Homo sapiens: one gene and its partners. The protein of the gene in region 3 interacts with the protein of the main gene of each other region in a pairwise test. Each region holds a gene or a part of one and is shown on either strand. Other genes may lie near its edges.

What was found.
Region 1: the proteins of FFAR2 (region 3) and SLC35B4 interact in binary tests that used the Homo sapiens proteins (3 or more experiments, as listed by UniProt).
Region 2: the proteins of FFAR2 (region 3) and TSPO2 interact in binary tests that used the Homo sapiens proteins (3 or more experiments, as listed by UniProt).
Region 4: the proteins of FFAR2 (region 3) and PEX16 interact in binary tests that used the Homo sapiens proteins (3 or more experiments, as listed by UniProt).

The regions. Positions count from the first base shown.
Region 1 is NC_000007.14:134,306,923-134,313,947, forward strand, and holds part of SLC35B4 (nucleotide sugar transporter SLC35B4), read right to left. Parts: intron 2,558-7,025; coding exon 2,444-2,557; intron 1-2,443. UniProt on the Homo sapiens protein: Antiporter that transports nucleotide sugars across the endoplasmic reticulum (ER) membrane in exchange for another nucleotide sugar.
Region 2 is NC_000006.12:41,038,399-41,044,846, reverse strand, and holds TSPO2 (translocator protein 2), read right to left. Parts: upstream 2,381-6,448; 5' UTR 2,069-2,380; exon of another isoform or gene 2,039-2,068; intron 1,882-2,038; 5' UTR 1,862-1,881; coding exon 1,689-1,861; intron 1,291-1,688; coding exon 1,149-1,290; intron 908-1,148; coding exon 710-907; 3' UTR 510-709; downstream 1-509. UniProt on the Homo sapiens protein: Cholesterol-binding protein involved in the redistribution of cholesterol from lipid droplets to the endoplasmic reticulum. Required to meet cholesterol demands during erythropoietic differentiation.
Region 3 is NC_000019.10:35,444,011-35,451,278, forward strand, and holds the start of FFAR2 (free fatty acid receptor 2), read left to right. Parts: upstream 1-4,246; 5' UTR 4,247-4,369; intron 4,370-4,812; exon of another isoform or gene 4,813-4,935; intron 4,936-5,031; exon of another isoform or gene 5,032-5,190; intron 5,191-5,208; exon of another isoform or gene 5,209-5,332; intron 5,333-5,703; 5' UTR 5,704-5,704; coding exon 5,705-6,697; 3' UTR 6,698-7,268. UniProt on the Homo sapiens protein: G protein-coupled receptor that is activated by a major product of dietary fiber digestion, the short chain fatty acids (SCFAs), and that plays a role in the regulation of whole-body energy homeostasis and in intestinal immunity.
Region 4 is NC_000011.10:45,914,870-45,921,952, forward strand, and holds the start of PEX16 (peroxisomal biogenesis factor 16), read right to left. Parts: upstream 3,009-7,083; 5' UTR 2,943-3,008; coding exon 2,831-2,942; intron 2,625-2,830; coding exon 2,589-2,624; intron 2,273-2,588; exon of another isoform or gene 2,130-2,272; coding exon of another isoform or gene 2,105-2,129; intron 1,435-2,104; coding exon 1,358-1,434; intron 968-1,357; coding exon 834-967; intron 700-833; coding exon 599-699; intron 1-598. UniProt on the Homo sapiens protein: Required for peroxisome membrane biogenesis. May play a role in early stages of peroxisome assembly. Can recruit other peroxisomal proteins, such as PEX3 and PMP34, to de novo peroxisomes derived from the endoplasmic reticulum (ER).

The DNA of each region.
Region 1 (7,025 bases), on a different chromosome or scaffold from region 3:
AAGTACATATCAAAACGCTTCACAAAGCCAGACTAACATGGGAAAATCTAAGTTATAAAATACATTTAAAGAAACACTATTTAAAAATTTTCAAGTATACATAGCAACTTAAAATGATTGTATTGATTCTTTGTAAATAATTTTCATATACCTCTGAAGAACTTGAAAATGGCTGATTTTCTCAAATACCTCCTCTATACACTTGTTTGTACTGTTAATTTTCGCTGTTTCTAAAGAAAGTATTTGCTAAGTTAAGGATTATTTTCAGCCTAGCAGCTGCTAAAATTCTCCCGCATTCTGAACTAGTGGCCTCCAAATTAATGAGGACATGGTTTGACTTGTACAGATTTTTATTTAAAATCAGGGTCTCTGTTTTTTGAAAGTTTATAGGTCTTAAAATAATAGAAACAAAAACTAAAAAAAAAAAAAAATCCAGTAACCCTAATAACTTAAAGGGATAAATACAAATGAATTATTATGAACAGATGGATTAAACAAATAATTTTACATTTGTATGTCATCACTGTGATTCAGAAAATACATAAGATGCCTTCTACATATATTGGGCCAAACCATATAAAATTGCCGTTTTTATAGGTCAAAAAGAGTTGAATGTCAGAAATTTCATATGACTCAACTTCCTATATTGAGTAAGAGAAAAAAACAGCATTTAAAATAAATGGCTAAAGAATGCAGGGCAAAAGCAAATAAGTGGTTCCATATTCTTCAGGAAATGTTGATCTTGGAGATTCCCAACCATTTTCCACCTTTGCACATCTGAAGGATATGACAGCACTGAGTCCTAAGTGATCTTCCCTGAAAGAACCGATTCTGCGTTGCTAGTTAGGTGTGGAGCCATACACCACAACAGGCAGTCAAGCCAAGGCTGAATTAATATAGTCTGGAAAGTCTGAGGAACTTGACAATGAACACATATGCAAAATTACCAGCAACAGCTTCTTCACAGCTTCTAAATAATATACTATCAGCGACTTTACAAAGTTTCTTGCCAAATTTTCTTAGTTCTACCTTGAAGAGGTGCCATTTACAGAGTTTGTCAAGGTCTTTTAGGGTAATTAATTTAACTATTCCACATTGCTTGCCTAGAAATTGTGGATGGGGATGAACGACATGAGCAAAATTTTGTTTATGGCTCCACCTACAGAAAATAAAATGGCCAACACACATAGGACATGCATGAGAATATGGTTATGAGGGCAAGATCACAGAGACCCTCAAAGGGCAGGATGGGGAGTCTGGACATCATTCAGAACATCGTGGTAACCACAGAGTGGGGCGACATGATAAAACGATATTAAGTGAAATTGATGGATGAAGAGGTGGGAGGCAGGGAAGTCAGCCAGCTAGGATGCTATTATAAAAGATATGGTGACAGGGTATACTTCCTGATCTATGCTAGTGGTGGAGAGAATGGGGAGAGATAGTGGGAAGAGGCAGGAAAGGGCCAGAGGAGTCAAGAAATGCTGGGGCTTTTACTGCAATATAAATGCTGGTCTTTAGGGGCAGAAAGTTTTATGCAGATACTAAAGCAAATGAAAAACTAAAAGTATCTGGAATATTTAGCATCGCACTGGGAACTTTAAAAGTATAATATTAACAAAATTCAGCCAGATTTTCTATAGCAGGCTACGTAAGAATGCTGCAAAAGAAAACCAACAAAGATGGGCCTTTGCCTTCATACTTGGATATATTCACACCAGAATGTCGCTCTAAACGGGAGTAAGTGACATCATCCTACTAAATACTCACAACTGGATGGATTACACTTTTATCTCAAGTCACTCTCAGCAAGAAGGCTGAGTTTTCAATACACTGTTTAACATAAGAACTGCCCTGTTTTCTATTTGGCCCCATGAGTACAATTATGCACATTTGGACTAATGTACTACAGGTCTGGCATCAACAAATTTTGACTTTGCTTGCCATTCATTTTCTTTTAATTGAGGTGAAATTCACATAACATAAAATTAACCATTTTAAAGTGAACAATTCCGTGGCATTTAGTACATTCACAAAGTTATGTAACTACTACCTCTATTTATTTCCAAAAGCCATTCGTTTTTAAAAAGAAACAAGGATACTCCCCTTTTAGAATGTTTGATAACTTCACCAACACAGAAGACAGCACAAAATTTGTGGTCACACTAGGCCTTCTGACTAATCCTATACTAAATAAGAACACACACACATACACACTCTTGTCTCCATCATGGTTATTTTAAATCTTGTGGCAGAAATTTTATTTTCGAAGTAGGTACCCCGGATTTTCACAACATATTAAATTCAGAAAATGACTTATTATTCTACTGGTATCTTTGAAATAAATCTTATAAAAGAATGTCTCATCCTCCTTTTATACAGGTACCACCTCTTTACTTTCTTAAAAAATCCAAAAGCTAAAAGAGACTCTAATGTACCATACCTTATTGGGATAGCTGGTGGCTTCCTTCCCAAATCAGCTTCAAAGAGGAAGCCTTCCACAGCAATAAATAAAAATTGTGCAAATGTCACAATGTTCCCACATCCTGGATGCTTCCTGTATAGTGAATAATAAAAGAGGGGGTGAAGGCACAAAAACTGAGATACAGAACACTAAAATGCATTCTAATTAGAGGGCCAGAATAACAGCGTGGATGGATTTCAATTACCCACTGTCCTTTATCTCAATGTTCATAGCCTTTGGATCACATATACTTAGCATTGATCTCACAGAGAAGAATGTCAAGCTTTCTTATTTAACTCTTCCTTGCGTGTATCAGGCCATGAGTGAGAATTACTGTGACGACACACTTGTTCCCAGAACTACGATACAGCTTTCCTAGTAAACTGCAGGAAATTGGTCATATGTTCTTATTGGGATCTTTGCTTCACCAGAAAGGTCTTTAATCAGGATCCCAGTCAGCTTAGGTAGCAAAGCCCAGGGACAGAAATATGCTCAGGTCTCCTGGAATGTTTATATATCCCTCCTGACCAGGAATCACCAAGACTGCTGTCAAACGAAAAATGGACCCAGTGTTGATGATAGGAACATTACTTTAAATGGTGCCCAGCAACGGGGCAAAATTGGTTCTTGGGATGGGGGAGATATCTTACTCTTTTTATAACAATAAAGTACAAATATACATACAGTACCTGAACCAGTACACACTATATCTATGGCAGGGGAGGGATTAAGAAAACAACGTCTAAAAAGTATTCTGGAGGAGGCATAATGAACAAAAGACTGAAAAACACTGCCGTAGTCTACTATTCTCTACAGCTCTTAACCCAGTGTTTTGAATATATTAGGCACTCAAAAAATGTTTGTGGAATTCAATAGAGTCTCTTTAGTGATCTGTGAAACAGTTGGGGAAGATTCCCCACATTCAACAGTGATTGTTAGGAACAAATTTACAAAGTTAAAAACTTCCTCCTGACATTCATCTTGAGGCACTCTGAAAACTAGTCATTTAAAATGTTCAGGTTTTCTTGAGCTTGTCTTCCATTCAGCTCTGCTCAATCGCTGGAAGAAGAACAAAGTGAGCAGTTATCTTTGCTCTCCTGAAGCTTCCAGATTTCCTATAATACCAATATTCACCTGCCTTCGTATTCTGTGTTTTCATCTTTTTTTTTTTTTTTTGAGACAGAGTCTCGCTCTGTCGCCCAGGCTGGAGTGCAGTGGTGCCATCTTGGCTCACTGCAAGCTCCGCCTCCCGGGTTCGTGCCATTCTCCTGCCTCAGCCTCCCGAGGAGCTGGGACTACAGGTGCCCGCCACCAGGCCCGGCTAATTTTTTTGTTTTTTTTCAGTAGAGACAGCGTTTCACTGTGTTAGCCAGGATGGTCTCCACCTCCTGACCTTGCGATCCACCTGCCTCGGCCTCCCAAAGTGCTGGGATTACAGGCGTGAGCCACCACACCCGGCCTCTGTATTTTCATCTTGACCAAAGGCATTTACCTGAAGCTGGTGAGAGGTATGTAATTGTATTATTACATATTAATATACTGCTACTTACCAGAAATGACTCCATTCTCCATTGGTATTAGTATTATACAGCAATGCCAAGATATACAAGTCCTTAAATATACCCATTAGGCACAAAAATAAGACAATACAGGCATGAGCCATTCTTCTACAGAACTAGGCTTACTAACTGAAACAGAAATGTTGCTACTCTTTAAGCTCTGCTGCCTATGAAGGTTTCCTTGAAAACTGCTTTCTATTCAATTCAACAAGTTCTCTTTTAGCACTTCTTATGTTCAAAGGACAAGGCTAAATGCAGGAATCCATAAATAATCATGTAAGACATTTACCTCATTCAAGGACCTAATTAAAACCATTAGCCTAAATATGAGTGACAGAAGGAACTTTAACTCTAGATGGTTCCTAGCACGGTGCTTTGGAACTCGGGCCAGCCTACTCTGCTTTTTAAAAACCTGTTTCCCAAATGGTCGGCACGGTGGCTGGCTCACACCTATAATCCCAGCACTTTGGGAGGCTAAGGCAGGTGGATCACCTGAGGTCAGGAGTTCGAGACCAGCTTGGCCAACATGGTGAAACCCATCTCTACTAAAAATACAAAAATTAGCCAGATGTGGTGGTGCATGCCTGTAATCCCAGCTACTCGGGAGGCTGAGGCAGGAGAATCACTTGAACCTGGGAGGTGGAGGTTGCAGTGAGCCGAGATCATGCCACTGCCCTCCAGCCTGGGTGACAAAGCAAGACTCTTGTCTCAAAAACAAACAACAACAACAAAAAAACCTATTTACCCAAAGAGGCTCACTCTCCCACTTCTAATTTGATTAGTCTGGGGTAGGACCCTGGAATCTGTACTTTTAAAAGCTTTCCACTTGATTGTCACATGCAGCCAGGTTGGAGAAATACCAGTCAAGGTGCAGGGAAAGGGCTGAGAGTGTATGTGAGTGCATGTGTCGCTGTATATGTGAATGCACAGGTAGTTCTCAGGTGCTGACACAAGGTTGAGAACCACTATGCTCCACTGTGCTTAAAAGTACACACCGACATGCGATATGTTGCTCTGTCACTTGCTATGTGACAGAAGTGAATTAATTTATCTAAGTCTAGTGTTTTTATCTTTAAAATGGAAACCATATGAGTGCCTATCTCTGATTTATTGTAGAGTAAATGAGCCATCCCTGAAAAGCACTTAACACAGCGCCTGCCACAGAGTGAAAAAGGCAAATATGATGACCAGTATTTAGGATCTTGCAGGCTGAAAGGTCTTCAGCCTTTAAAAGACATTCCAGTTGACTAAGTTTTCTCATCTCTAAAATGAAACTGATTTCACTGTCGTAGTGAGTATTCAATGAGAAAATACATGTAAGTGCCAAGCACAAGAGGTAATCCAAAAGAGGCTTCAAAGTTTCCTTCTATGTTCTCTTTAACAAGTTTAGGCCAAGTCAACTAAAGAACAATTATCAAGACTCAATTATGTGTAGAGTTAGGTGGCTGCTTCCAGGGAGCCCCCAACTTGAATGGGACTGGATCCCTGCCCAAGAAGATGACAATATGGGAGAGCCAGATGCGAAGGAGGACGTCAGAAGCCAGTGCCTTAGCAGGGATGGTGATGGGACAGACCATGTCCCATTTACCTTTCTGCTCTCACTTTCGGGTCAGTGACCCACCTTTACTCAAGCAAGAGAATGAATGTGAGGGTTCCAATGTGATCTAGAATCTTATAATTTCTACAAAAGATAAAAAGAGATTTAAAAAATGATTCACATGACATGTGTATTCGCTATAGGATTTTTAAAAAGGGCATCTTAATACTTTTTATTTTATGGAGGTGGGTATTGATATGCCCATTTCATTCCATTTCTAAAGACGCTGAGGGTCCCATTGCACTGCGTCAGGTAAGTCTCCCAGCGGTCAACGGCAAATAAATGGCATTTGCGGTTACCCTTAGCATTATGATTATTACAATTCAGTGGGGTTAAGTATGGGTTTTTAGTTGTGCAATAATTGCCACTATCTAATGTTAGGACACTCCCAAGAGATACTCTATTCCCATTTTGAGTCACTTTCCATTTCTTCCTTTTCCCAGTCCAGCAATAACCCTATTCTACTTTTTGTTTCTATTTCTATAGAATTTAAAAATCTCCCTAATGTACTCAAATAATTTAATTTTTGAAAGCTCAACTTATGAAGCCTTTTCGAAACACACTGTTGTATAGCTACCAATGGAATTATTTATTTTAACTTGAATAATTCATTTTAAAACTTCAGAGTAAAAACTTGGATCCCTTAATCTTGTTTTCTTGAGCTCTCTTCCTCAGGAATTGTAATCACTAACTGCAAACAGTTTCTCTTACTTTGAATTCTCTTGGCAAAAATTCCAATTTTTATTTAAAAAAGAATGCAACTTTGAAGAGAATGAATTGGGCAGATCGTTTATGCCGTTTGCATTTCTTTTGCTGAATTTAGGAAACTATTTAATTCAAGATCAGGCACTTGAATGAAAAATAAAATAGGAAAAAAAATGTTTCAGATTGTTTTTCTGGTGTAAGGCAAGCAATAATATCTTGCCTAGTTAGTTAGCTGGTGTGTGTATATCTTGTTTCCAAGGTAGAATGTAAGCTCCCTAAGGAGGAATATCAAGGCACTCGTCCATTACTACCTATCTGCTCTGTCCACTGCATTGTGTTTTATTATTGGTCCCAATCATAGGGATAAAAATCAGAAAGAAAAGCCTGAGTTTGTTTTCCAATTTGGGGAAAATGGTTAAAAATGTCCTCTTCTTCCTGCAAGTCACTTAGCATTTATATTTAGTGTTATACTTGCTACTTATTAGGGCACCTACTGGCTCCAAGCCAGCCAATATAAAAAGCACAGTTCCTAGGCTATAAAAATTTATGGGGCTTCCACTGTGATGTCCCAAGATAAAGTCACAAATTCCAAGGCCATATCTAGAAAGAACCTTAAGGCCATCTGGTTCAACTAGCTCTTATTTTATTGATCTGTAACACAAGAAGTGGAGACTTGTCTTAGGAAAAGGCTCTATTCAGT
Region 2 (6,448 bases), on a different chromosome or scaffold from region 3:
TCGGCTCACTGCAACCTCCTCTTCCCCGGGTTCAAGTGATTCTCCTGCCTCAGCTTCCTGAGTAGCTAGGACTACAGGTACTCACCACTGCACCCAGCTAATGTTTGTATTTTTGGAGGCAGGGTTTCACCATGTTGGCCAGGCTGGTCTCGAACTCCTGACCTCATGATCCACCCGCCTTGGCCTCCCAAAGTGCTGGGATTACAGGTGTGAGCCACCACTCCTGGCCCCCTAGTACCCTTTTTTAAGGTGTATTTTTCTGTTTTGGCTTTTTTGTCACTTTTAAAAAGCCTTTTGTTTTTCAGGTAATTAAACATCTGAGTGCTAAATCTTTATGCCAGGTGGGGAGGCATGTGAATGGAGGCGAGCTGGTGTGCCCACCCCTCCCCCATGGGCCTTCACACATTCATTCACGCGCACACACTCACACAGAGGTCCAGAAGCTTCTATCCCACTCTGCCGCCCTAGTCATCATATTATGCATTCAAATACACACTTCACATCATACCTTCAGAGTTACTAATAGGATTTTATTATTTAAGTGTAAAATCAGTTTCCCCCCCTTTCCCATTTCTCTGATTTCTAAGGAAAAACGGCACCAGGGGACCCAGGAGGGTGGTCCCATTGGGGTGAACCCTAACTCCACAGCCCTGCTTGCAGACTCTTCCTCCCCACCCTGGGCGTCCCTCCTCTCCCATGCCCTAGGGCCTCAGTCACTCTTCTCCGTGGGCTGAGGCTGGTGCACTGGACAAAGGCTGTCCCTCCACAGGTGGTAGGTGAGGGCTGAAGTCACGGTGAGCCAGGCTAGGTAGGGCAGCAGTAACAGGGCAGCCAGTTTGTTGATGGGATGCCAGATCAGTGCTGTGCTCACCACCAGCCCATACAGCAGCAGCAGGTGCAGCAGGGCCTGGGCATAGAGGCCGGGGGTCAGCTGGCTGCCCGAGAACCAGCACCTCCACCTTTCTGCAGTACCCAGCCCAGCAACGAGCTCAGTCCCTGGGGCTCTGTGCACACCATGGGAGTGCAGAGAAGTCTGCCCACCCATTACCTGCCTGCACTCAATTGCTCTGCTGAATTATGTGCTTCTGGAGCCAGGTGGTTTCACCCTCTCCCACATTACTTCTGCTACTGAGCACTGTGTGCCTTACCAGACCAGGGTTGTGGACTGTGAAAAAGAGAACCAGGACAGTCCAGCTGATGGTGAGCTGAACAGCATAGAGGCCAAGAGGCAGGGCCAGGGGCCACCCCAAGCCCCCTCCCAGGTCCTTCCACACCAGGTAGGAGGCATAGCTGTGGAGACATGGTGGCAAAAACATTCAGTGGGAGGAGGTTCCGTGGCAAATGGAGGAGGCTCTCTGGCATAAGGACTCTTGGATACCCTTGTGGGCTGAAATGGGGGCAGATGGGTTTAGGCATCATGTAAGGGCCAGGGAGGGAGTTGGTGGGAGGAGCTGGGCATGGTGAGGTGGAGGAGGGGCTGGGGAGACTTAGAGAGGGTGGAAGAAGGGCTAACTGGAACCCCAGGCAGGCATAGAGGGTTTCTTACTTTCTGGAGGACCCACTATGGTGGTGAGAGGCAAGACAAAGCGCCTACCTTTGGAGGCCAATATATGGGAGTAATTCAGATATAGAGGACTTGTTCCCACCCCATTGGGTACCAGGGCCATGTGTGAGAAACAAGTACTCACCCCACGACAGAGTAGATGGCTGTCTGTACAAGCAATAAGACTTTGTAGAATGGGCACCAGGACAGCATCCTCGGGCCCTCACACCAACCAGACATGTGATCACGAGTGAACAGCCAGACCAGGATGGGCCCCAGGTGGGGCAGGAGCACAAAGATAGCCCCTTGAAGCCGCATTCACCTTGAAGAGGCAAAATCTGGGGAGGCAGAGAACATGCTAGTGATGAGCCTTCCCCTGCGGCTCCTCGTCTGTCTCTGCCTCCTAACCTGACTCATTTCCTGGCCTGAGCCCCTCAGAGAAGGTCTACTCACGGAGGTCCTTCCTCTCTCCCTGGCCCAGCTCCAGTCCTGTACCTCTGAGCTCTCTCCAACCCCAGGCCACACCTTGCCCATCTCCTGGCTTCCATGGACTTCTTTTCTCCACAGCACTCCTCTGGCACTTGGAGGACACTGCCCAGCACTGGTAACTGCTTCTAAGTGAATAGGCCTTCCTCCAAGTGCTTCTGAGTCCTGGAGATCAGGTCCCGGGTGATGAGCTTTTCTGCAGTGGGCAGCGCTTAGCCAGGTATGTAGCTGGCCCTCACCGAGAACTGTTCTACCTAAGCTGATCTACCAACCTGGAAAGTTCACAATCTGAAGGCAGGAGCCAGAAATTCCTGGGGACTCTTTTCTAGTCACGAATGCGGCAGCACATCTGTCCCAGGCTTATCTCACCATATCAGACTGGCACACTCATGGGGCCCACCCAGGCTGATCTCCTGCCCAAATTCAAACTTGGCCTGTTGACACCGTGGATTCCTTTTTCTGAACTTTTAGCTCTCTTCTACCCCTGGAGCCATGGGGTATGAGCTTCCTGCTCCATCTTTCCATTCCCAGAGTGTCAGGATGTAAGCACAAGCATCCAGGTTTCTTGTGGCCTGACTTTTCAAGGAAACAACTGCCTGGTCTTTGATTAAAAAGCTGCCAAGGTGGCATGTTGCTTTGCATGTCATTTGCATGTGGGACAATGTACAGACCCTCCTCCAGCCAAGGCCCCACCAAGGCCCCACAAATATCATTCTTCTCATTTGTTCATGATATTTCAGCCTCCCCCCATGATTAACCAGATTTGAAGGAGAGAAAACAATCTGATTATTTTCAGTATTCTGGACTGACTATCTAATCCATCCTTTTTTTTTTTTTCTTTTCATACAGAGTTTCACTCTTGTTGTCCAGGCTGGAGTGCAGTGGTGCAATCTCGGCTCACTGCAACCTCTGCCTCCCTAGTTCAAGTGATTCTCCTGTCTCAGCCTCCCTAGTAGCTGGGATTACAGGCGTGCGCCACCATGCCCGGCTAATTTTGTATTTTTAGTAGAGATGGGGTTTTGCCATGTTGGTCAGGCTGGTCTCGAACTCCTGACCTCAGGTGATCCACCCGCCTTGGCCTCCCAAAGTGCTGGGATTACAGGCATGAGCCACTGTGCCTGGCCCTAATCCATCCTTTTCTGTCAAGGGTCAGGGACACTGGTCCTGGAGGTTCTGGGACAGAGCTGAGCAGCATGCCCACCTGTGCATATTTCTACTTGTCTTTCTGTGCTCCTGACTGTCCGTTTGCTCATCTTCTGCCTTCCTGTTTTTCTACATTTCTGTCCAGTGGTGGAGGCCCCCTCCCTGCCCCTCCCTGCCCCCATCCTCTTTTCTCCTGACACCTGCCTCTCCCAGTGCCTCCTGGTTCCTAGGCCTGTGCTCCCCTTACCTCTGGCAGCACACCTCCCAGGCGGGGGGCCTGATGACATATGATGTGTGGAAGGCAGAGGAGGGTGGGGCTGGGAGGAGGGTGGGGCTGGGAGGAGGGTGGAGTGGTGCTCCCTGCTGATCTGCCTTTCTCAGATGAGAAGGGTGGTGACACTGGCTGGGAAGTCCAAGTTGCTGTTTCATGGCCCCAAAGAGTTCCTCTCAGGAGGAGCCCCTCTGGTCTGCCAGACCCTCCTTGGTGCCTGGCCTCTGGAGGCTACCCCTTGATGGAATGTTTGAGGGCTTGTGGTGAGGGTTTGACACTGGCCCTCCTGTGACAGCTCAGCCCCCAGTTATAATGCTGTTGATGCCTGTGGTCTTTGCATCCCATGAACCAGCTCTGTGGCCATGGGAGTGAGTGGTAGGAGCCTTCACATTTCTTCAGAGCCTCCTTATAATTGGGATTGTCCCCAAGAGTGGCAAGAACTAGCTTGGGAAGTGAGTTCATAATCCATGAACACAGCCCCTGGTTATAGCCTCCTGGTTGGCATGACCTTCCTGGCTTAGAACCCTAGCTTGACAGATCTTTCACAAACCCCTAGGACTTTATGACTCAGAGGAGAAGGCAGCTGACAAGTGGAGGTGGGTGGGGAGTCAAGGAGGAGTGACCTGGCGCTTCCTGGCAGAAAGTCCTGCCTCCCAGCCGCCCTAAAGAGGGGTAGGGGAGAGTGTCCCTGTCTGTTGGCAAAGTCCAGCCTCCTGTGTGACTCAGACAGAGCTTTGTTCAACAAAGACAAACACCCCTACCCCACTCCTTTCATTCCCTATCAAAGTTCTGAGCACCCCTTCCTGGCTTGTCTTTAGGCATGAGGTCTGCTTCCCAGGTTGCCCGCTCTCTACCATCTCTGCACTTTGGGGTACTGGGCTCCCCTGGGAGGTTTATTCCACCCTCTCACCTCCACCAGGGAAGGAAGCAGAGGGGAGGGCATTGCAGTCAGAGACAAGAGGCTAGAGAATTATTAACTGAGACAAAAGCAGAGGAAGTTACTTATTTTCTATGGGAGATGATAACTAGGGGCCTGGGGGGGCGTTCACCATGCCTCCTCAACTGCAGGAGGCCAGACCCTGGTGACAACGGTTACCATCTATTGACCACCCATTCTGTGGTGGGCATTTGACATTTATTAGCTCAATAATGACAATTATTATCTCACACAAGGTAGATATTCTTAACTGCATTTGACAGACAAGGGAATTGAGGTTCAGAGGAGTTAAGTAGCTTGCCCAATATTACATACCCAACGTGTGGCTCACCTGGGCTCAGTGTTGGCCAGTTGGAGCCAAAATGCATCCTTTTCCCTCTCAACTGCTTCACTCATTCATTCAAGACATGTTTATTGAACACCTTCTATCTATCAGGCTGTACCAGGAGCTGAGGAGACAGCCGAAAACATGGGAAAAGTTCCACAAGGAGTTTTCATTCTTGTGGTGCCACCGCTCCTAGGCAGAGTTTTAAGAACTCAGAATGGCAAATGGCCCCAAAGTTCAGTTGTCTCCCAACCGGCAGTGTCTCTGCCAACTTTGGGTGGGGGAAGTAGAAAGCACCTTGTGTAAGGAAAAATATGGGTACATCTCAGGTCCACCAGCAACTGGTGAGTCATTAACCGTCTCAGTGGCTCCACTGTCTTCTCTGTGTGGGGAGCGGGTGGAACTAGATGCTCTCTAAGCTCCTTGGACCGGTTGCATTGGCATCAGCTGGGAGCTTCTTTGAGCTGCAGAATCTCAGGCCCCATACTAGACCTACAGAATCAGAGCCTGCATTTTAACAAGATCTCCCAGGTGACTGTTGTGCACATTATAGTTTAAGAAACTCAGATGAAGGTTCCCTCCTCCTCCTATCTGCTATTTTAATAATAGCCTCTGGCTGGGGACAGCCACTCACCAGCAGAGGGCACTGTAAGGAGGGGTTTCAAGGTGCAGCACCTACACCCAGGTTGTCTCCCTGCCTCCCTCCTTCCTTCCAGACCTAGACTGGAAAGTTCACTGACTTCTGGGATCCTCAGCTAATCCCTTACCTGGGCTGGACTTTGCCAATAGACAGGGACACTCTCCCTCACCCCTCTTTAGACAGCTGGGAGGCAGGGCTCTGCCAGGAAATGCCAGGCCACTCCTGCCTGGATTCCCCGCCCACCTCCACTTGTCTGCTGGCCTGCCGACTGAATCTGGCTGACCCTTGTTTCTCGGAGAAGGAACTGGACCAGCCAGCAGCCTCTAAGAGCTCCTAGACGGTAAGTTGAGCACCCCCTTGGGGCAGCTGGAGAGGGGATGGGCATTGTGATGGGGTTACCTGGAGCTTCGGGGGAGGAGCCAGGCCAGCTTAGCCTGCCTGCTGGAGTGTAGGGACCCTCTGCTGGAGGAGGGGAGGAAAATGGGACTTGGCCAATGGGTATGAGGACCACTGGGATGATTCTGTGTCCTGCGGAAATGTCTACTATACTAACAAATGCCATTCATGACTTGGGTTTGGACCATCCATCCCAGTACTTGTTATGTTCTGCAGTAACTGGACATCTATCAGGTGTTGGGGAGGCACAGGGAGAACCAGTGAGGTGGAGGAAAGGTTGAGAGTTTTCTTAAAGGGTATGAGCAGAACTTTGCAGCAGGAGTTTGGATCTTTGTGCTGGAGGATGCAACTGCCTAGGGACAGGTGATGGCAGCATTCTAAAGGACTCTCGTTTCGGGGACCCGCTACCCAGGGTGATCTGGGGTCTGGAGCAAGACAGACTGGAGGAGTGGGTAATGAGGAGTCCAGGCATGGGGTTGGGATGCCCCAAGTCACACTCGAATGGCTGCAGTGCTATAGTTGCCATTCAGCAAGACTCCGGACCTTTCCCCATTCTGGAGCCAGAGGGAGGATGCAGTGAGGGCCAGGGCAGCCTGGAAGAGCAGTCACCCTGGGAGAGGCCCAGTGGGGCTTTGGGAGTGGTGCATGCCAACTTCTCCAGGGTCGGAGGTTGAGCCAGGGGACTCTACTGCACCACCCAGTGAGGT
Region 3 (7,268 bases):
ACCATGGCATACTTATTAGAATGCCCACAATTAAAAACTAACAATTGTCAAGTGTTGGTGAGGATGTGGAGCAACTGAAATGCTCGTAGGCTGCTGGTGGGAATGCAACATGGCACAGCTACTTTGGAAAACTGGTAGTTTCTTAAAAAGTTAATAAAACGTTTTACCATACCACCTGGCCAATACACTGCCAGGTATTTGCCCAACAGCACTGAAAACATTTCCACACAAGAATGTTCTTAACAGCTGTATTCATACTAGACAAAAACTTTTTAAAAAAAACCCAAACCAACCAAATATCCATCAACAGATGAATGGATAAATAAAATAGGAAATATCCTTAAAACAGAATACTATTCAGCAATAGAAAAGATGCTTAACCTGTAAGAGGGGAATCGAAATCTAGGAGGTCAGGGCCTTTTTTTTTTTTTTTTTTTTTTTTGAGACAGAGTCTTGCTCTGTCGCCCAGGCTGGAATGCAGTGGCGCAATCTTGGCTCACTGCAACCTCCGCCTCCTGGGTTCAAGTGATTCTCCTGCTTCAGCCTCCTGACTAGCTGGGATTACAGGCGTGCGCCACTATCCCGGCTAATTTTTGTATATTTAGTAGAGACGGGATTTCGCCATGTTGGCCAGGCTGGTCTCGAACTCCTTACCTCAGGTAATCCACCTGCCTCGGCCTCCCAAAGTGCTGGGATTACAGGTGTGAACCACTGTGCCCAGCCAGACAGGGATTTCTTAAGGAAGTAAATGGTTATCTGAAAGAAAGCTACAAATTAACTGTGAAAGTTGGAATGGGTAACAAGAAATAAAGACATACCAGGCAGGGGCTGGTTCAAGCTCCCCATGGCAGATGGAAAACATGACACATTCACAGAAGTGGAAAATGGCCCTGCCCAGACAGCAAAGAGAGAGAAGAGTGATGTGAGTGGAAGCTGGCAAGGGCCATGCTAGGCAGGCCTTTTTAAGGATGTTGATATTTCTCCTAAAAGCAGTGAGAAGTCTCTGAAAGGACAAGAAGGTCGTATAATTGGATTGACATTTTTAAAATGATTCCACTAATACAGTATGGAGAACTGACTGCCAGGGAAGCAGATGGATGAGAGGAAGTGAGTCAGGGCCCTGCTGAAATCCTGGTAGGGATGATGGCACTGAGATGGGATGATGGAGATGGAGACGGATGGATGGATTCATATTTGGAATCCATAAGTATTTGGGGAGTACATCAGACTGCATTCTAGGGATAAGGAAGAAGATAATATTGAGATTCACTTTAAGACTGACTCTAGTCAGGCTCAGTGGCTCACGCCTATAATCCCAGCACTTTGGGAGGCCAAGGCGGGCGAATCACTTGAGGTCAGGAGTTCGAGACCAGCCTGACCAACATGGTGAAACCCCGTTTCTACTAAAAATACAAAAATTAGCCGAGTGTGGTGGCACATGCCTGTAATCCCAGCTACTCGGGAGGCTGAGGCATGAGAATTGCTTGAATCTGGGAGGCAGAGGTGGCAGTGAGCCGAGACTATGTGCCACTGCACTCCAGCCTGGGCGACAGAGTGAGATTCAGTCTCGAAATTAAAAAGAAAAAAAAAAAAGACTGACTCTAAGATAATGGTGCAGGAGATGTGATGGGAAGAGATCTTACGCCCCAAGACAGGGAAGGGTGGAAGAAGGAAGATCTGAGGCCAGGTCTGGACACATTTGATTTGGTTGATTTGGGACACCTGTGAGACACCCAATGGCAGTGTCAACTAGGCAGTTGAGCGTGTACATGTGAAGCTCACAGAAACCTAGGGTGAAGATTCAAACCAGGGGTGTCATGAAGGTGGTAACTGGAACTACGGAAACAGTTGCAGTCGACTAGAAGGAGAGCACAGGCGAGAACAGGAAAGAACCTGGAGCCAAGCTTGAAGGAAGTCACCATTTCGGGGATGAGTAGGGGAATGGTGAGCTAGCAAAGGGGTACGAGAAGTGACCAAAGGAAAGAGAGGGAAGCTAGCAGCGTAACGTATCAGAATTTGTGAAAAGAGGATGTTTCCAGAAGGGCGTGGAAATTGTGTTGAATGCTAATAAAATAAGAAAAGCGTAAGTCCACTGAATTTAGGAACATGGAGGTCACTGCTAACATCGGGAAGAGAAAATCCCATGGAAAATAGGCACAGAACCCAGATTAGGGTGGACTGAGGGGCGAGTGAGAATTAAGAATGTGGAAGTGATTACACAGAACTTTAGATAAGGGTCCAACTTCCTGTGATGACAGGCTGCATTATAAAGACGATGAGAGAAAACTGAACTTGGAAGGAACTGTGAAGGATATTGCTCTTGTGAAAGTTTACCCCCTTGAACTCGGTCTGAGAGGTTGGGTTTCCTTTTCCTGTGACGTAGGTGGACATCATGAACTGTGAGACTGAAAGCCTCCTTGGTGATGCTCCCTTCATAACTGCGGTGAACATTCATAACTGCTGTGAACCCAGAGAGGGGGTTTCGTTGGGGCGTCTTCCACAGGGGGACTCACGACAGTGACGGCGAAAGGCAGGAGGTGGGGGGAGAAGAACGTGCAGAGACAGAGAGGCAGTCCCACTCCTCAACACTTGTTTTCCAATGAGTTTCCTGGATTCTGCAATTAAATCCAGATCCTCGTGCATGTTTATAGGAAATCATAAAAGCGAAATGACACAAATAAATTTGGTGGCAACAAGAGAGAATGGTCTCTTTCTTAGTTCTCCTGTTGATCTGAGAAGCGACGTGTGCTGGGGGAAGGAAATAAAGAACTAGAACGCCTTCAGAGGAGAGTAGAGTGGACGAGAAAGAAAAGCTAAATATCAAAATGTCTAGACCCTGGGGTTACAGACCACAAAAAGAATAAATGACTGACTGACTGAATGACTGAATGAATGGCAAACAATAGGAAGTAGGTATGTCCTAGGGAAAGAATGGGGATTCTGTGAGCAGGAATCAGGCCACAGATGGCAGAACAGAGACTTCTTTCTGAGACTTCCTCCCTAGTTCAAGAGGAAAACACGTTCCAACGATCCTTGCTGCATTAGGTGTGTATTTCAAAGGGACCTTCAGGAGCTCCTAACCTGGGGCTACCAAGGTCAGAGAGGGGGAAACAGTGAGACTTTATCAGGGAAAGGAATGGAGCCTGAGTGCCACTCCCTGACGAAAAGCCACATGGGCACGTGAACTCGGGCCTCCTGAATTCCTGACACTTTCCCAAGAGGGACAGCACATCCATGCCCTGAGCCTCTGGAGGCTGCACCAAGTGGCTCACTCTCTGTGAAGCTGCGTTACAGGCTTGAGACGAGGCAGCACTTACGGGCATCTGCTAAGTGCTTTATATACACAACCTCACTGAATCCTCGCAGAAGTCCTAGGATGTCAGAATTCGCATGCTCACTTGACTACAGCAAACTAGACTTCAGAAAACGGATCTGCCCCCAAGGTTGTAATGAAGGGACCTGGATTTGAGCCCATATCTGCATGACTATAACTCCCACACCATTTCCATCACAACAAGATGCAGGCCAGGACCAGCCTGTTTCAGCTGAGACGGGCAAAAGAAATGTGTTGGGGGCAGAGGGCAGGAGACCATAGAGAAAGTAAAAAAATTGAAGAAGAAAAGGAAGGAGTGCCGGGTGCAGTGGCTCACGCCTGTAATCGCAGCACTTTGGGAGGCCAAGGCAGGCGGATCACTTGAGGTCAGGAGTGCAAGACCAGCCAACATGGTGAAACCCTGTCTCTACTAAAAATACAGAAATTAGCTGGGCGTGGTGGCAGGTGCCTGTCATCCCAGGGAGGCTGACGCAGGAGAATCGCTTGGACTCGGGAGGCAGAGGTTGCAGTGAGCTGAGATGGCGCCACTGCACTCCAGCCTAGACAACAGAGCAAGATTCAGCCTCGAAAAAAAAAACCAAAAAAAAAGAGGAAAAATAAAAAGGAAGGAGGAAAGCTCATTTCTGAGAATGAGCAGAATGACAGAAGAAACTGCCTAAGAAAGAGAAAAGAAAATAATCTGACTTGGGAAGTAAAAAAAGAAAAATGCCTGGGAATTTTTTTTTTAAATCAGGAATTAAGGACAGAAAAATCTGAATTTGGAAGTCAAGAGTGAGGATTCTCTAGGGAGAGAATAAAGATGCTGGGCCTTTCCTTTGGGTTTGAGAGGAAATAGTGCTTAAAGACTGACCTTCCTTTCTCTGGTCACGTGGCTGGTGCTAGTATAAATGCTTACTACCAGCCAGGTTCCTCACCATTTTTTCCTGCATGGCATGGACAGAAGCAGGGGCTAAAGCTCTGTTCCTCTCTCCTGGAAGCTTGCAGACCTCCCTTCAGAACCAATCCCAAGAAGCCACCTATCCGGAACAACACAAGGCAAGGCAGCTAGTGTAGTGCTTGTGCTCTGGGAAGAGAGGCCAGGATCAGGTTTGAGGGGAAGGTTCTGGGAGACTGGAGGAAGGATGTCAGAACCAAATGGAAGACTCATACCCAGAGACAGGAGCTAGTGTGAGGAGCAAGGAAACAGCCAGGAAATCAAGGCTGGAGAGTGGACAGAGGGACAGGACCTGGGTTGGGGCCAGCAAGGGTGACACCCCAAGTGGAAACTGAGTTACCCCGTGAAGAAGACGAGTTCTATTTATGGTCAGAATGCCACGCTCAAGGGCCAGTGAAGGCCTGTGGGCTTTTCTGAATATTTCTCTAAGGTCTTCTAGGGACAAGCCTTCCTCCTAAGGCTAGTGCTGGTTCATCCTTCTTCCCCTCCACCCTCCTCTAAGCCTCCCAGCTTCCCCTTTTCTTTTCTTTTTTTTTTTTTTTAGACGGAGTTTTTGCTCTTACCGCCCAGGGTGGAGTGCAATGGCGCAATCTTGACTCACTGCAACCTCTGCTTCCCGGTTCAAGCGATTCTCCTGCCTCAGCCTACCAAGTAGCTGGGATTACAGGTGCCCGCCATATCACCCGGCTAATTTTTTTTTTTTTTAGTGGAGATGGGGTTTCACCACGTTGGCCAGGCTTGTTTCGAACTCCTGACTTCAGGTGATCTGCCCGCCTCGGCCTCCCAAAGTGCTGGGATTACAGAAGTGAGCCACTGCGCCCAGCCCCAGCTTCCCCTTTTCTAGAGAGTCCCAGAGTTTGGTGTTGGACAGGAGAGGACAAGGTGGGGGAGAATCTGTGCTCTGCAAAACAGACGAACGGAAGTAGGAAGCTGGGCTGGTGGCTGGGCACTTGGGTCCTTTGGAGAGCTGGCACTGGGTATCCGCGCCTGGGGCGCCACAGCCTCTTTATACTGATAAGCATCTTACAGCTCTCTCCCGGCACTGATGCCTTTCTCTCCTGCAGGTCTCTGTCTGAGAAAGGGACTTGAGTAAAGTTAGAAACTGGCAACAGTAACTTCCTGTATCTGTGAGGACAGGAGGAGAAAGGCTAGGGAAACTGGAGGGGGAATTCCCTTGGGAAGCCACGAGTTGGTCTCCTCCAGAGACACATGATGGCAAACATAATCACTACTGCTTAATATCCCGCCCCAGGCAAAGTCAATAATTGCTCTGGGTAGTTCGAGCAGGTGGTGTGAGCAAGCCGTGGTGGCATCAGAAAGCACAGTCCTGGGAAGGGGACGGTGCCGGGGAGGATGTCCGCATCCTGAAGGAGAGCTGGCTGCGCGGGCTGTGAGTGAGACCTCCCTGACCCCGCCCTTTTTTGTTCCCCTCCAGGATGCTGCCGGACTGGAAGAGCTCCTTGATCCTCATGGCTTACATCATCATCTTCCTCACTGGCCTCCCTGCCAACCTCCTGGCCCTGCGGGCCTTTGTGGGGCGGATCCGCCAGCCCCAGCCTGCACCTGTGCACATCCTCCTGCTGAGCCTGACGCTGGCCGACCTCCTCCTGCTGCTGCTGCTGCCCTTCAAGATCATCGAGGCTGCGTCGAACTTCCGCTGGTACCTGCCCAAGGTCGTCTGCGCCCTCACGAGTTTTGGCTTCTACAGCAGCATCTACTGCAGCACGTGGCTCCTGGCGGGCATCAGCATCGAGCGCTACCTGGGAGTGGCTTTCCCCGTGCAGTACAAGCTCTCCCGCCGGCCTCTGTATGGAGTGATTGCAGCTCTGGTGGCCTGGGTTATGTCCTTTGGTCACTGCACCATCGTGATCATCGTTCAATACTTGAACACGACTGAGCAGGTCAGAAGTGGCAATGAAATTACCTGCTACGAGAACTTCACCGATAACCAGTTGGACGTGGTGCTGCCCGTGCGGCTGGAGCTGTGCCTGGTGCTCTTCTTCATCCCCATGGCAGTCACCATCTTCTGCTACTGGCGTTTTGTGTGGATCATGCTCTCCCAGCCCCTTGTGGGGGCCCAGAGGCGGCGCCGAGCCGTGGGGCTGGCTGTGGTGACGCTGCTCAATTTCCTGGTGTGCTTCGGACCTTACAACGTGTCCCACCTGGTGGGGTATCACCAGAGAAAAAGCCCCTGGTGGCGGTCAATAGCCGTGGTGTTCAGTTCACTCAACGCCAGTCTGGACCCCCTGCTCTTCTATTTCTCTTCTTCAGTGGTGCGCAGGGCATTTGGGAGAGGGCTGCAGGTGCTGCGGAATCAGGGCTCCTCCCTGTTGGGACGCAGAGGCAAAGACACAGCAGAGGGGACAAATGAGGACAGGGGTGTGGGTCAAGGAGAAGGGATGCCAAGTTCGGACTTCACTACAGAGTAGCAGTTTCCCTGGACCTTCAGAGGTCGCCTGGGTTACACAGGAGCTGGGAAGCCTGGGAGAGGCGGAGCAGGAAGGCTCCCATCCAGATTCAGAAATCCTTAGACCCAGCCCAGGACTGCGACTTTGAAAAAAATGCCTTTCACCAGCTTGGTATCCCTTCCTGACTGAATTGTCCTACTCAAAGGAGCATAAGTCAGAGATGCACGAAGAAGTAGTTAGGTATAGAAGCACCTGCCGGGTGTGGTGGCTCATGCCTATAATCCCAGAACTTTGGGAGGCTGAGGCAGGTGGATCACTTGAGGTCGGGAGATTGAGAACATCCTGGTCAACATGGGAAAACCCCGTCTCTACTAAAAATACAAAAAAATTAGCTGGGCATGGTGGCACATGCCTATAATCCCAGCTACTCTGGAGGCTGAGGCAGGAGAATCCTTGAACCCGGGAGTTGGAGGTTGCAGTGAGCTGAGATCACGCCACTGCACTCCAGCCTAGCGACAGAGCAAGACTCCATTTAAAAAAAAAAAAAAAAAAAAAAAGAAGCACCTTCAGGCTGGAGAAGCAGCGTAGCTAA
Region 4 (7,083 bases), on a different chromosome or scaffold from region 3:
AAGCACTCTGCAGCCCTCCCTAGCCTGGGGAAAGCTCAGCATAGCTGTGGCCAGAGCCAGCCTCCCGGAACCCATGGACAGGCAAGGCAGGGAAGGCCCAGCCTGACCACATCTATGGAGACCACAGCACCAGAGGGGCCGTCTCCTCTCAATCCTTTGCCTTCAAAACAATCATGATGAGAGGCAATGAACGGCCCCAACTCAATGTCCAGAGAGTGAGGCCCAGAAGCTGACGGGATGGGCCCAAAGCCCTGAAGGGACAGATGTGGTGCGTGCCCTGCCTCCTGCCTCTAGAGGCTATGGTTCTGGACACAGAACCAGGCTCAGAGTCGAGGTTGGCGGCATCCCATCTGTTCCCTCTTCCTGCAGGCTACAAAAATGAATGACTCTGGCCATGACAAGTACTGGGTTCGTGTTCTGATTTTGTCCCTAGCCGCATCATTGTCTTCTCTGTCGAATACATGGCAATGAGAACACATAGTTGATAGGGACAGGCGTGCTCCATAAACAGATACTACTGTATTCATGCTGGTTGGATCTAAATCCTCAAGTTAGTCCCATGGCCCATTCCGCTCCAGGGCTTGGGGAAGTAGCTCACCCGGGGGCTGTGCCTGGGTCTCTCTGTCCAGTGGAACGATAGGGGGTGAAGTCTGGAGGCCAGCCTTGAACCAGAGCAGCAGGAGCATCCGCAGTACAGCCCTGGGTCGGGGAGTATGTCAGGGTTGTGGGGAGGTGGCTAGCCGGCGGGAGGCCAGGGATGCTCTGCTGAGCACCATCTGTGTAGCTAGCCTGCGTCACCCCCACCCAGGACCCTCTCCACAATCCCAACCTACTTGGCCAGCTGGACGAGGGCGATGACAAGCCAGCGGCCCACTTCACCCCACACCTTGGCAGCTCCCATCTCCATGAACACCTCCACGCACTCCAGCACGCTCAGCCATGTCAGCAGCTTCTGCTGGGACAGCGACTGCAAGAACCCCAGGCCAAGAAGTCAGGGGGCCTGGGACTACAGGGAGTCCCAGGCCCTTCTCCTAGGAGGGAGCTTCTCTGACAAGAGATGTGGACCTTCCCCTTTCCAAGCCTAACTGTGCAGGTGTGAGTTCAAACACCAACTCCACCATTAACAGGCTGGGGGACCTGAAACAGCTGACTCTACCTCTCTTCACCTGAGACAGTCTCTTCATCTAAGATGGGAATACTCACACTTTACAGGTCACCTAATGAGATGGTTTGAGGCTCAGATGGACATAGGCCTGTCTCATACTCCATGAGACATGTGCTGCACGCATGGGCTAGCTGCTACTATTTCATTCCTGAGTCCCCATGCTTCCCACCCTGTTCTTGGCAGAATTCTCACCACAGGCAACTTTTTCCGAAGCTCCTTCCGTAGGATCCCGTCATTGAGCAGCACAAGCAGGTTAGAGGCAGAGTACACTGAGGGGTAGAGAGTGGCCTTGAGAGGCTGGCTCTGCAGCCTCCATCCCTCTCACCTTCTCCCCAGAGCTGCAGGGATCACCTGTCACATGCTCTGCTCAGACACCCACAGACTATGTGGAAACCAACCTTCTTCTCCACCCACTTCCTCAGCACTCCCCTCTCCCCAACATGATCTCACAAGGGTGGCTGGACCAAGAAAGGATGGGTCAATCTCAGTGACAAGCCAGTTACTGCCCTGCTGGATGGCACTGGTCATCCAGCTGCCCACAACTGCCCATCGCTCTCTGAACTGCCACAGATACACGGTCCCACCTCCTGGCCCTTTCTCTCTTGGCAGCCTGTTCCTGAGGGTCTATTCCACCTCCACTTTTCTTTTTTCTGAGTCGGAGTTTCACTCTTGTTGCCCAGGCTGGAGTGCAATGGCACAATCTCGGCTCACTGCAACCTCTGCCTCCCAGGTTCAAGCAATTCTCCTGCCTCAGCCTCTCAAGTAGCTGGGACTACAGGCACCTGCTACCATGCCCAGCTAATTTTTGTATTTTTAGTAGAGATGGGGTTTCACCATGTTGGCCAGGCTGGTCTCGAACTCCTGACCTCACGTGATCCACCTGCCTCTGCCTCCCAAAGTGCTGGGATTACAAGTGTGAGCCACTGCACCTGGCCTCACCTCTGCTTTTCAAAACCCAGTGCATTCTTTCAGGACTGTGACAGCAGTCACTGGGCAAACACTCTTGAGGTAGTTACAATCTGGGAATCCTGGAATCTGGGAGATCTAGACTTGAATCTTGGTTCTGGGACCATCAGTGACTGTTCTCTAACCTCACTGAGCTTCTTCCTTAAATGGACAGTGATGACAATAAGTACCACTTAATATGACTGTAGGGAGGATTAACAAGTAAAGGTAAGAAAGGCACTTAGTCCAGCGCCTGGCCAGTAGTGAATACTCAGATAAGGTCCCCAGACGTGTCTCTTGACTTAGGGACATGGAGGGCCCAGGACAATGAACAACAGACCTTGTGCCGATTCAGTCATAGCACAAGGTGTCTAACGGGCAGCCCAGGTCCTCGGGCTGGGGTGCTCACCCTCTCTGGGGAACTCACCAGGGGCCAGGCAGCCGATCCCCCATCCCCCACCCCCAGAGCCCGGCTCACCCAGCTCTGACAGCTCGTGCGAATCGGCGAATCGACCTGGGGAGAGGGTACAGAAGGAGGTGTGAGTGAGCATCTGCCTCACATTTCGTCTTCGGGTCCCGGAAATCCCCTCCCTACGCCCTTTGGGAACCTGGACGGGTCTTCTCAAGCACAGCGATCACTACCCTGACTCCGCAGGGAAGGGGGCCACTGGGGTCATAGGTCAGGGCCCAGAAGGAACTGATCAAAGGTCAGGGTGGCACCTGCCAGCAGGTAACTGAAGCCCCGCACTGCTGTCTCCAGCTGGGCCGTGGCGGCCGGGTGACGAGTCACGTACTCCTGGTAGCGGAGGCCCAGGAGCCGCAGCTTCTCCATCCTGCCCTCGGCACCGACAGACCCACAGAAGGACCGTACGACAGGCTGCGGCGCCCTGCTTCCTGCGCCCTCCTTCCTGCTTCCGGTCTTAGGCCCGCCTCTTGGTTGCTTAACTTCCGCGGGCCAGAAGGCTGAGGACTTGAAGAACCGGTGAACCACCCTTCACCCCATCTCTTGAACCGCTTCCCACTCGGGTAGCCCTTAGCAACTGAGGGCCCAAACCCGGCCCCCTACTCCCTCAAGTCATTGGTTAGCACGCTCTCCGCCCCTGACCCGCCCAGCGCCGTCAGCACCCAGCTCTTCCGTTTACCGGGTTGGCTGCCCTTGCGCCTGCGCAGTTAAAGCTCCGGTAAAGCCGGGCGGCAGTCAGAGCAGTTCATTCTAGAGAAGGGAGCTGGAGCCCCGAGTCTTTCCAATGGAACGCCGAGAGACTCGAACGGCAGGGCCGGATTTTAAAGGGCTGAGAGATAGCGGGTGCTTGAAAAAAGGAGCCTCGATCAGATTTGGGGAGGTGCGGGGCGTCTAAATACAGTTGCACTGTGTCTCAGCAGGCGCGCGTTCGGCCAGTATCCCCATCTCCGTTTCCTCAACAAAGGTAGTGCTGGGGAAACTGAGGCAGTAAGGAGTCCAGCCCTCTAGTGCCGTCTCGATCCCCTAGACAGCACAGTTAGTGCTCCGGCTTCGGCCTCAGCTCCCGTATGGACTGTGCCCCCCAAAGGGCTCGCGCCTGCATTCCCACATACGCGAAGAAAGCCCTGGCCCGGGCTTCTCTCGGCTCGGTGGCCCTTGGGCGGGAGTATCCCTTCTCTGGGTCTCGGATTTCCCGATCTGTAAAATGGTTTGAGGGCAGACTTGATCCTTGAACTCAGAATCGATCTCAGCTTTCTGGCCCTCGGACGCACCTCGCAGTCCTCAGCTGCGCCCCCAAGGGAAGGGGAGACCCCTGGGGAGTATCTTCCCAAACCAAGCAGCCTCCCTGGAACGGGTGGCACCGGGAGATCTGCGGCGAGTGGTGGAGGGAACGGGCGCTCTGGGGAGGTAGCGCTGATTGGCTGCGGGGAAAGGGGCGTGACATGGGTGGAGCCGTGGGCCAGTGGCCTGAGGGAGCGGGCCAGCGGATTTATGGTACCCTGAGAATAGTAATACATTATTTTACCTAATCCTCTCCACCAGATATCTCCAGATGAAGAAAGCATCCTTTTAAGAACGCCCAGCCAAAATTTGAGTGTTGGTCTTTTCTGACCTCAGAGACTAGGCGGTTTTTTTTAATTCATTTTTTTTAACTTTAATTTTATTTTTAGAGACCAGGTCTAAGCATCACACCTCACCAGGAAACCACAACCTTCCTTCCACTCCCTCACTCCACCCTACTCCACAGCTTAGTTTTCTTCTCTATCAGGTGGGGGATTAAAGCTGCCCTCTTCTCACATCAAAGAACGAAGACCCAGGGAAAGGTGACCAGGGGCCTGAGGAGAGGCAAAGGTCTTGGAGAACAGAGGAGGTGGTCATGGGCATCGTCGACATCATTTCTGGCCACGCTCTGGGTTCCAGGCTTGCTTGCCCTCCTCCCAGCAGCCCCAAGTTGCTATGAACTGTTCACAGATGGGAAATTAGGGCCCAATAAGGAGGGGAAAGGATTTGTCCCACATGGCACAGCAAGGCACTGGCCAAAGAGGCCACAGCGCAGGTCTCCAGTGGCAGTGCCCTCTCTCCTACTGCCCACAGCCCACAAAAGCTGTGACATGTTGAGGCTCCTTGGTCATAAGGCCAGTTAGCAACTGGGATTAGGACCTAGGCTCAGGGCCCTCAAGGTGAGGCTCCTTCTCCCTTCCTCTGCCCCACCTTGTTTTTTGTTTGTTTGTTTGTTTGTTTTTGAGACGGAGTCTCACTGTCGCCCAGGCTGGAGTGCAATGGTGCAATCTCAGCTCACTGCAAACTTTGCCTCCCAGGTTCAAGCAATTCTCCTGCCTCAGCCTCCCGATTAGCTGGGCCTACAGGCGCCCGCCACCACGCCTGACTAATTTTTGTATTTTTAGTAGAGACGAGGTTTCGCCATGTTGGCCAGGCTGGTCTCGAACTTCTGACCTCAGGTGATCCGCTTACCTCAGCCTCCTAAAGTGCTGGGATTATAGGTGTGAGCCACTGAGCCCTGCAGGGCCCTGCTGTGCACCAACACCTTAGTGAACTTGTTCCTCAAACCTCCAGTTTGGCCACTCCTCCAGCCCTCCCTCTGCAGCTGTGGAGAGGGTACAGAGAGAGAATTTGAGGTTCTTCAGCACTCCTTGGGCTGGAGGTCCTGATTCTGAGAGCAAGGTGTGGAGGGGAGAGGGGCAGACTCCCCAGGACAGAATAGGAAGGGGCTTGGGCTGGAACCAGTTTCTTCTCCCTCCCTGCAGAACTGGGAAGGGGAGCATGGGTCTAGCCAGCTTGGCAGCAGCAGGGCTGCCTGAATTTCCTCTCTAGATCCCAGGCCGGATTAGGGCCCAGAGACAAAGAGTTGCGGTGTGTGCAGGAGGCCCCTCCCCTGCTCCCTGGCCCCCTGCCTGGGCTTGGCCGTCTTTGTTGGGCTGGAAGGACCTTTGGGCAGATTGAGCCGTATCCTCTCTCCTTCAGTTTGCCCCAAGTCACAGGGGAAGAGAGGTAGACCAGTCCAACATTTACCTACGAGAGTACCAGAGGCCCAGAGATGGAGCCTCACTCGTCTAATAGGGTCACACAGCAAAGTCCTGGGCAGAGCTGGGTCAAAATGGGTCTTAGGCCAAGAGGAACAGCACCTGTTTATATGCCCATACGTGTCCCTCTTTCTCCCTCCACGCCCCCAGAACAACCCCTTGGGGGCCTAGCAGGTATCTCAGCACTTCAGTTTCCCTGAGTGGTGAGGTTGAGCCAGAAGAAGGGCCAACATTGTGAGTGACTACAGTGAGATCTGCAGACCCAGCTTCCTGCACTGACTCCCCCAGCCCCTTTATTGAAGACTCATCCTGGGCCAGCACCCAACTATGGATCCCATATGGTGTTTGTTTGTTTTTAGAGACAAGGTCTCACTCTGTCACCCAGGCTGGAGTGCAGTGGTGTGATTACAACTCACAGCAGGCTTGACCTCCTGGGTTCAGGTAGTCCTCCTACCTCAGCCTCCCAAGTACTAGGCACATGCCACCACGCCCAGCAATTTTTGTATTTTTTGCAGTCATACAGTTTGGCCGCATTGAGCAGGCTAGTCTCAAATTCCTGGGCTCAAGCAATCCACCTGCCTTGGCCTTCCAAAGTGCTGGGATTACAGGCATAAGCCACTGTTCTGGCCTGGTCTCACATGTTTAACCCCCACAAACCGTCTCTGTTGAGGGTCCTGGAGAGGGAATCACATTTCCCCACCCCAGCTTTAGGCTACAGATGAAGATCAGGGAGGCTGGAGGCTCAAGCTCCAGACGCCTGAGTGGCCAGTGCATGGCCCTTCTCAATTTCTGGGTGCACAAGGAGCCACCATCAGTCTCCATAGCAACCATTATCCCTGCCCTCCAGAGACCCAAAGCCTGACCTTCCCCATCTCCCAGAGAAAGGGGGTCTCAGGTTGGGCTGCTTTCCACAGCTTCTTTTGAGTTTGCCTCACTTTTTGCAGCCAGAAGTTGGGCAAATGACACAGCCTGAGCCCCCTTTCCAGGTCATGGGAGGGGAGATTCTCATTCCAATCCACTTTCAACAGGTATTGAGCACTTGGTATGTGCAGGCCCTGGTTGGGCACTGGGGACTGGACAGACAAGGTTCCAGTCCGGTGAGCAGCTTACATTCTGGGAGGGAGACCTGCAATAAACAAGCAAACAACTTCAACTTTCCATGAGTGCTAGCCAGCCCTGGGAGGCTCCGCTGCCAGAAGGAACGTCAAGGGCAAGTCCTGGGGCGGGAGACCCTTCCGGAGGAGGAGCAAGAAAGCTGCTTCTGCAGCGCAGAGCCTGGGGAACGGAGTGGGGCCGCTTGAGACGGGAGGGGCCGGAGGGTGTTCTTGTCTAACAGGTCACTTAAACTCTCCGGGGGAGAATTAGCCCGCATCATGGGATTAATCGAGGGTGATTAAATCCTTAGCACAGGGCCTGGCACGCTGTGCTGGTTTAGGGTCCAGAGCGCCCCCCACCCATTCCCTGGCCTG